Homo sapiens: one gene and its partner. The protein of the gene in region 1 interacts with the protein of each later gene in a pairwise test. Each region holds a gene or a part of one and is shown in the gene's direction. Other genes may lie near its edges.

Evidence for each region. The genes of interacting proteins can lie anywhere in the genome.
Region 2: the proteins of GTPBP1 (region 1) and C7orf25 interact in binary tests that used the Homo sapiens proteins (3 or more experiments, as listed by UniProt).

Annotation. Positions count from the first base shown.
Region 1 is NC_000022.11:38,729,084-38,734,250, forward strand, and holds the end of GTPBP1 (GTP-binding protein 1), read left to right. Parts: intron 1-378; coding exon 379-579; intron 580-1,528; coding exon 1,529-1,621; 3' UTR 1,622-4,504; downstream 4,505-5,167. UniProt on the Homo sapiens protein: Promotes degradation of target mRNA species. Plays a role in the regulation of circadian mRNA stability. Binds GTP and has GTPase activity.
Region 2 is NC_000007.14:42,909,271-42,913,278, reverse strand, and holds C7orf25 (UPF0415 protein C7orf25), read left to right. Parts: upstream 1-1,208; 5' UTR 1,209-1,364; intron 1,365-1,435; exon of another isoform or gene 1,436-1,811; intron 1,812-2,085; exon of another isoform or gene 2,086-2,218; coding exon of another isoform or gene 2,219-2,239; intron 2,240-2,357; coding exon of another isoform or gene 2,358-2,378; coding exon 2,379-3,644; 3' UTR 3,645-4,006; downstream 4,007-4,008.

The DNA of each region.
Region 1 (5,167 bases):
CTCCACTTGCCAGGCTCTGTGCAGGCTCTGGGCTCTGGGGGCTGGACTGAGCGGGAGGTGGGAGCAAGGTTCACCAATTTCTCTGCAGGAATAGTAGCTGCAGCAGAGAACAGGATGGAGCCTTTCTGGGCTGGGCAGAGGCAGGAAGTGAGGCATGAGTCCAGGGCCATAGCAGTCCTCAGCCACTGAGTGGGGATGAGAATGCCTCTTCATCCCCACTGCCTCCTGTCACAGCCTTCCTGCCATCTGCCTTGCCCTGAACTGGCAAGATCAAGGAATGAGGAGTCTGTGGGAGAAGGGGGCTGAGGGTGGGGGGTAGCCAAGCCAGTGCCACTGCCCCGCAGCTCCAGCCTCAGCCTCTCTCCATGGCTCCCACAGCTCCTCCAGACCACCAACAACTCCCCAATGAACTCCAAGCCGCAGCAGATTAAAATGCAGTCGACGAAAAAGGGCCCCCTGACGAAACGAGACGAGGGGGGCCCGTCTGGTGGGCCAGCAGTAGGAGCACCCCCACCTGGAGATGAAGCCTCCTCTGTAGGGGCAGGGCAACCAGCTGCGTCCAGCAATCTCCAGCCTCAGGTGAGCACGGGCCCCTCGCAGCTTCGGCATGGTGGTGGGGGCTGTGGCTTTTACTCTGATTCGGTGAGGGTGACATGTAGGCAAGCCTCAAACCTGGCTAGAGGGTCTCCTCCACAGCTCTGGCACTGAAGTGCTCCTAAGAATGAGGCATTTGTCTCTAGAAGCTATAAGGCAGTGCTTCCAAATCAGGGAATACAGCCCACCTGAAACCAGTTTAATTGGCCCTAACTAGCATTTGGTTTTAATGAAATAAAATAGAACAGAAAAATGTCGAAGCTTCCCTTTCATAGTAAGATTAAGTATTGCAAGTATTGCTGGTGTGAGTGTCCAAGTGATATATGTGTGCACTGCAGTCCAGCAGGTTTGAGAGACACTGCCTTAGAGGGTCCTCCTCTGTCCCCTCCCTGACGTGCACACATCCTGAAGGGGAGGTGGCTTTGGGATGTGCCAGTGCGCCTCTTACTCGGCATCTCCTGCCAGCTGTCTCCCACAGGCACTCTCTCCTGGCGTGATGAAGGCCTGGTGCCCCTTGCACCCCTCTCCCCAGCATCTTTCTCCATTGTCCCCTCATTGGAAAAGGAGGCTATGCCTGGATCTGTCTGTCCATTCTGTTATCTGTCTCCCATGGGTCTTTCCTCTGGTTCGTTCGCTTCCTTTCTCTCTCTCCTGCTCTGCTTTGTGCTTCTCTGAACGGCCGCTTCTCACACCCTCATCATGTGTGTCCTACCCACCCTGTAAGGAAGGCAGGGCAGGCACTGGCTCCATTTTAGAGACAGAGGGGAGGTGCTGCATGCAGAGTGACCCAGTAAATTCCTGGTCAGGCTAGGGTGAGGACCACGCAGCCTGCTCACGCATCTTCCGTCCCTGTCTCCCCGCTGCTCAGCACCTCTGCTCTCTGGCCCTGCTCCTGATGGGCCAGTGCTTCTCAAGCTCCTTCTCTCTCTTTCAGCCTAAGCCCAGCAGTGGAGGCCGGCGACGAGGGGGCCAGCGCCACAAGGTGAAGTCCCAGGGGGCCTGTGTGACTCCTGCCAGCGGCTGCTGAACCTTCCCCTGGCCCACCCTCACCACCCAAGGGGTCATCATCTCTGGCCACCACTCCACCAGATGGGCAGAGCAGCTATGACCGCCACCCAGCCCTCCCGCTCAGGCCACAGCCGGAGCCTCCGCATTGCCCCCACCCCCATTTTCCAGGGGGGTTGTAATTTATAAGCTGACGAAGGTAGCCAGACTTCCGGAGGACTGACCATCTCTCACTGTCCTCCCCACCTTCTTCCTCACTCACACATTTTTTGTACATCTGGGCCCTTAGTTTTTATTCTGTTTATTATATGTCTCTGTCTCTCTCTATTGTGTGTGTGTGTGTGTGTGTGTGTGTGTGTGTGTGTGTGGTGCAGGAGTGCCACCCCCAGGGCCCTGTCAACCTCTCTTTTCTCCTCCATGGCTGTCTGCCTGCGTATCTGTCTCTGAGAATCCTCGGGGCGGTCAGGGGATGTCAGGAGGGGAAGGAGCCGCCCTCCCTATCTTGCTGCTCCTCTTGGCACTCAGGGGCACCTTCCATGGAGCCAGACCGGGTGGAGGGGCTTCTGGGATTTGGTGTCTGCTGCTGCCAGAGCAGGAACCCCCAGTCTAGGACTTGGGCATTTTAACAGGGAGAAAGTAGTGGCTTCCCTTTTCTCTCTCTCCTCCTTTTTCCCTTTAAGCCCACAGATTCAGGTCATGCCAAAAGCTCTCTGGTTGTAACCTGGAGACATGTGGAGGGGAATGGCGATGGGATTATAGGACTCTCCCCATCTCGGGCCCTGACCCTGACCCTTGCCACCAACCCAAAGACAGCTGGTGGGTTTCCCCTTGGAGACAATCCTGCGTTTGCCTGGGCCGGCCCTGGCTGCCCTCAGCTTTCGCTGATCTGCCCGGCCTGGAGCCTCCCATCACCCCGCTTCTTGTTGGGCCTCAGGCACTGGTTACCAGAAGGGGGTCTGGGTCTGCTCAGGATCATGTTTTGTAGCACCTCCTGTTGGAGGGGTGGAGGGATGTTCCCCTGAGCCAGGCTGAGACTAGAACCCCATCTTCCCTGAGCCAGGCTGAGACTAGAACCCCATCTTCCCCACCACGCCACCCCTGTGGCTGCTACAGGAGCACAGTAGTGAAGGCCTGAGCTCCAGGTTTGAAAGACCCAACTGGAGCGTGGGGCGGGCAGGCAGGGGTTAGTGAAAGGACACTTCCAGGGTTAGGACAGAGCATTTAGCCTTCTGGAAGAACCCCTGCCTGGGGTGGGACTGTGCAGGCCAGAGAAGGTGGCATGGGCCTGAACCCACCTGGACTGACTTCTGCACTGAAGCCACAGATGGAGGGTAGGCTGGTGGGTGGGGGTGGTTCGTTCTCTAGCCGGGGCAGACACCCAGCTGGCTGGGTCCTTCCTCAGCCTTGCCTCCTCCTGTCCCCAACCCTTTCCTTTCCTCCTGCTTGCGGACTGCTGGTCCCCTCTCCTTCCCTCCTTCCAGCTGTTTCTAGTTACCACCTACCCCTGGCCGTGGACTGATCAGACCAGCATTCAAAATAAAAGTTTGTTCCAAGTTGACAGTGTGGTGCTCCCTGCCCAGCCCCTCCAGGTGGAGGTGCTGCCACGGGAACGCAGTTGCTCTGCCTGCCCTGGGGCCCCTGGCGACAGCTGGGAGCAGGGCAGTGCTGTGAGGAGCCCAGCTTTCCCAGTCAGGCAGGCATGGCTTCCGTGTTCAGGCTCCCTCACCAGCTGGTGACACGGGACAAGCTTACAAACCTTCTCTGAACCTCAGTTTTCTCATTTACAAGAGGCAAAGCCATCCATCACCTTGTGTGGATTCAGAGAATGTGAGGCCCTGGGGTGTCCTACACAAGGGAAAGGCTTGCTCAGTGAGCGGTCTGCACACCGTTAGCCACCCTGCCACCTCTGTGCCCTGGGCAGGCTCCAAAGGAAAGCTCTGGCTGGGACTGCCAGGAGTCTCACACGCTCCTGTTGACATTCCCAGCAGCCGCCCCTGAGGTCGATGTTTGTTCTGTTTTTCTTTTTCTTTTTTGAGACGGAGTCTCGCTGTGTTGCCAGGCTGGAGTGCAGTGGTGTGATCTCTGCTCACTGCAACCTCCGCCTGCCAGTTTCAAGTGATTCTCTGCCTCAGCCTTCTGAGTAGCTGGGACTACAGGTGCACGCCACCACGCCCAGCTAACTTTTTGTATTTTAGTAGAGACAGGGTTTCGCCATGTCGGCCAGGGTGGTCTTGATCTCCTGACCTCATGATCCACCCGCCTCAGCCTCCCAAAGTGCTGGGATTACAGGTATGAGCCACCGCACCGGGCCTGTTCTATTTTTCTAGTTAAGGGAACTGAAGCTCAGAGAGGTGTCACCAGCAGGTGTTCATTCCCATGCCAGCCTTGCCCCCCGGCTTTTCCCAGGCAGGCTCCTGCGTGCCCACTGGCTCCAGCCTGGTCCTCTGTCTCTTGGCTGCTTCACTCCTGCTCTTTGTCCCGACTCTGGCCCTGCTTACAGGGGCCACTACCTGCTGGTGCCTCCATAACAAGCGTCTGGCGTTGAGACCCCTGGCATGGCAGGGGCTTTGGGGTCTGGTTTCCACAAGGCTTAGCCATGGCAGAACCTCGTTTTATTTTAACTCTTTGCCCCTACAAACAAACAGCAGTACTTGCCAGAACCATTCTTGGGATTCAGGAGCTCGGGCGACTGCCTTGGCCTCTGGCCGCACCCAGGAGGGTGGGGTTGGATCTGTGTAGTTGCCAGGCCCACACCTGCCAGCAGGGGGCTGACTGGATCCATGCTTTACTGTGTTTAATGGGGGTAACAGGGGTCCCTACAGCCCTCCCAGCTAAACATTTGGAACAAAACACCAGCCCTTTTGTAGTGGATGCAGAATAAAATTGTTAATCCAATCACCTCCAATGGCAAGGCCTGACCCTTCTGTGTGTGCAGCAGGTGTTTGTGGCGTCTTTCCCAGGAGTAAGGCCTGTGATGGTGGGATGGGGATGGCCAGACCCCTGACTCCACAGTCAGGACTGTTCTGGCTTATCAGCCACCCTGGCACAGAGAAGGTCACAGGGATGAATATGCCACGCACAGGGGCAGCACAGGTTTAGTTGGGTTGGGGGAAGTACCATGGAGCCGGCAGTGTGAGGGCTGTGCTGTGAGGGCCCAGTAGGATTTGAATGTACAGATGGGCAGAGGGCATGTGCCCAGCCCAGGCTCTGGACTCTTGCCACAGTGTGTGGCAACTTCCAGGGGCTTGTTTATTGGTGCTGCGTGGGGATGTCTCCTTTGTTTAGATGGCGTCAGAGGCAGAGCAGGTGTCAGTGAAGGGGAGTGAGCACAGGACCAGCTGTCTCCCAAGAGGCTGAGGAGCTGGCCCAAGGCTTTGGGGGCTGGATTTGTGCCTCACCCAGCTCCTGCCTTGTGGCTGTCTCCACAGTCCTCCCTACTGACTGGCTTTCTGCCTTTGTTTTCTCAGCCATGATGAGGAGCAGCCCTGGGCCAGGTGCCACGGTCAGTATGAGAGGCTCCAGGATCAGGCTAGAGAACCACGCGAACCAGGTCTGGGGAGCTATCTGT
Region 2 (4,008 bases), on another chromosome or scaffold:
CTCTAGGGTCTTTTGTCTACTCATTTCTTCAGAGAAAAATAGGGTTATGGGGAGATAGTGGTAGGGAGCGGTAGAGGGGTGCCTGCATTATGGGAGGGGCAGAGAAGGGGGCTGCTAGCATTGCACTATTCAGTAGGAAAACATCATGGCACCTCTCATCCTTTGTTAGGCTTTGTGTCTGGAATCCCTCTGATGCCCTGTCTTTAGCATCTTAAACTAGTCTTCTGCCTGAACAATTTACTGCCCTCCCTTCTACCTTCAAGGCACCTGAAGCTTTCTGGGGTTCTGCTTTGTGAATCAGTGGCTAAATATCCCCTTCTACAAGCAGTTTGCTCAGTTCTCCTGACACCATCTGCAAAGAGGGTGCTTGGGTTCAGGTAACCTCCCTATGGCTCACTTATCTGTAAAGCATACTTAATATCTCTACCTTTTAGGTTGTTTAAAGGAGTGAACAATGTGTAAAACACTTAGAACAATGTCTGTCACGCTGTAAGGACTGAATAAGTTATTGCTCTTGTCCTCCAAAAATGTGTTGGTATAACCGGTCTGCAGTCATCTCTTCTCTTGTTCTTTTTGCCTTTGTTTGTTCCCTTTGTCATTGCTTTACTGTTATTTGGAGAAGGAGCATTGCTTTACTGTTAAGTTTGGAGAAGGAGCAGGATACACAGGATTAATTATAACTGGAAGTCCTCTTTAATATTTTAAATTAGCTTTACTTTCTTACAGCCCTAATCTTTCTGGGTGACTCTGGACACTCTACTACAGTAATATGAATATGGCAGCCCCTCGGAAGCCATGCAATCATTTCTTCTCTTCAGAAGGACAGCACACTTTCTTTGGAGGGCCCAGGACAATGCAGTGGAAAGTGCTTTGGCTTGGAGGCAGAAGTCCCAGAGGCAGTACTTCTCAGCTGTCACCTCTGACAAGCTTCTCCAGCGTTTCTTCTGTTAAAATGAGCCCCCAAAATGCCTACGACCCGGTTGCGATCGAGTGGCCGACGCCCCCAGTGGGAGTGAGGCCCAGCACGCGAGCTCGGTCCCTCTTCCTGGAGCCAGGTGGGTGCGCGCCTTCAGGCTCACCCGGCGGCGCAAGCGGGAGAAGCCAGGTGCCCTCAATAAACATGGCCGCCACGCCAGCGTCAACCCGGCTCGGGAGGCCGCGCTGCCGCTTGGGAATCGCAGGTTTGGCGTCACCCGGCCCGGAACCACGTGATGCAGGAGGTGCCCGAGGCGGCGGGGCTCGCGCGGGTGGAGCCGCCTCGGCGTTCGAGCGGGGTGGGGGCTGCCCGGTTGAGATTTCCCGGCGGGTCCCGGCCTCTGCGTGCACGCGCCTGCGTGCTCGCGCTCGCGGTTCTGGCGCTGCCGGTGAGGAGCCGGGGAGCGAGGCGGGGAGGCTGGGAGCGGGGCGCCTCTTCTGAGGCCAGAGGGGGCTGGGCAGGGCCGGCCCGGCGGGAAGGGGGTCGGCCGCGCGCTATCAGCGCCTGGTCCCTGAGCCGCGGCGCTGGCGGTGGGGGCTTTTCGGCCCCGGCCCCTCCTGGCAGGGCCCGGCTGTGCAGGTGGCCGGGCAGGGCCGAGGGCCCCGCAGCCCACCGAGAAGGCCCCGCCGGCCTCTGGCCCGCCCACCCGGCGACCTGCGCTGGGGCCGCTTGCACGGCCGCCGCGGGTTGCAGCCTTGGAGTTTAGTTTCATCTTCGGATTTTCCTTCAGAGTCGGAGTGGGAGTGGGACGCAAGTTGGTGGTCTTCTTCGGTCTTTTAAAATAGTCTGGGTTGACGTCAAATGCAGAAATGAGGCAGTGTTGATTTTTTTTGGCGTAAGTACCCCAAGCCTCGGGGGAAATCATGAGGCAGCCGGTTGAAGGAGACCAACTCGGGAAGGAGGAAAAGGTTAGGGAGGCTGAAGTGCTCAGTTTAGGACAGACACTTGCTTTGGACAGTTTGCTAACTAGCCAGTCTGTGTGTATTTTTGTTTTCGGCATTTTTGTCGCCTTTATTAAAATTTCTCAGCAGTTAAACAGGCCGCTGATAGACATAAGGGAATTATTTATATAGCAGATTGCCCAACTCTTGCATTGTATCCTAACCTAGGACCATGCTGTGTCCCCATGGCTTTCAAGCTGAAGAAATGAAGGTCTAAAGTGTGTCAGACGTACCTAAAGAAGAGTTCAAAAGTGTAGCTGCCATCCTTTCCTTAGCTATCAGAGGAAGCAGTCACTCCAGAATGAGACATACACAAGCCCGGGTTCATAGACTCACCCTCCATAAGCTGTGTTGCTAGATTGAAGTTTTTAATCACCAGTGAAGAATTGATTGTCATAATTTTAGGAGACTACTGAAGTTTGCCTTGTTTCTTTCCCTAGGAAAGGAATAATGCTGACAGCATGTCTGCACATTCCATGCTCTGTGAACGAATCGCCATAGCCAAGGAACTGATCAAGAGAGCAGAATCACTTTCTAGATCAAGAAAAGGTGGCATAGAAGGTGGTGCAAAGCTGTGCAGCAAATTGAAGGCAGAATTAAAATTCTTGCAGAAAGTAGAAGCTGGGAAAGTAGCTATTAAAGAGTCTCATTTACAGAGCACTAACCTAACACACCTGAGAGCCATTGTGGAATCAGCAGAAAACCTGGAAGAAGTTGTTAGTGTTCTTCATGTCTTTGGTTATACAGATACCTTAGGAGAAAAGCAAACCCTTGTGGTAGATGTAGTTGCAAATGGTGGTCATACTTGGGTGAAAGCCATTGGCCGGAAGGCTGAAGCTCTTCATAACATCTGGCTGGGCAGGGGCCAATATGGTGACAAAAGCATCATTGAGCAGGCTGAAGACTTCCTCCAGGCCAGTCACCAGCAGCCAGTGCAGTATAGCAACCCTCACATCATCTTTGCATTTTACAACAGTGTCTCCAGCCCCATGGCAGAGAAGCTGAAAGAAATGGGCATATCTGTGAGAGGAGACATAGTAGCAGTCAACGCTCTGTTAGATCACCCTGAAGAGCTTCAACCAAGTGAGAGTGAATCAGATGATGAGGGCCCTGAACTTTTGCAGGTGACCAGAGTTGACCGAGAAAATATACTAGCAAGTGTTGCGTTTCCAACAGAAATTAAGGTCGATGTGTGCAAAAGAGTAAATCTGGACATTACTACTTTAATCACATATGTATCTGCCCTCAGCTATGGAGGCTGCCACTTTATTTTCAAAGAGAAAGTGCTCACAGAACAAGCAGAGCAAGAGAGGAAAGAGCAGGTTCTACCTCAGCTGGAGGCCTTTATGAAGGACAAGGAGTTGTTTGCTTGTGAATCTGCTGTCAAGGACTTTCAGTCTATTTTAGATACCTTAGGAGGACCTGGGGAGAGAGAGAGGGCCACTGTGTTAATTAAGCGAATTAATGTGGTACCAGACCAGCCTTCTGAGCGTGCCTTGAGACTAGTGGCCAGTTCAAAAATTAATAGCCGCTCATTAACAATTTTTGGGACGGGAGACACCCTAAAAGCCATCACAATGACTGCTAATAGTGGTTTTGTCAGAGCTGCAAACAACCAGGGTGTTAAATTTAGTGTGTTTATCCATCAGCCCAGAGCACTTACTGAGAGTAAAGAGGCTCTAGCCACCCCCTTACCAAAAGACTACACAACTGACAGTGAACACTAAAGATACCCTTTAAATATTTTTGTGGAAGTAAGTTATTTATACCAAAGGCTGGGTCTTCCCATCTAAACTGGTGGGAAAAAAGGTCTATAGTAAAAGTAAAACTGAGAACTCTTAAACCAGTAGAGTTTCTTTGTCTCTCATCTAAAGTATATAACCTCCCAAAGTAGAAAAAGCACAAGAGAGAAGCTTATCTATCAAACTGTCTGCATTAGTGCAATTAAGAACCGAAATACGTCTATATAAAGCTTTCAGCTGTATTGTAATACTTTGATTCGATAGGGCTACAACTCCCCTACTGCTAACCACATTTCATGGAATATGGCTACATTGCATCTTGCATTAAATATCTGGAGAAAATTCAAGC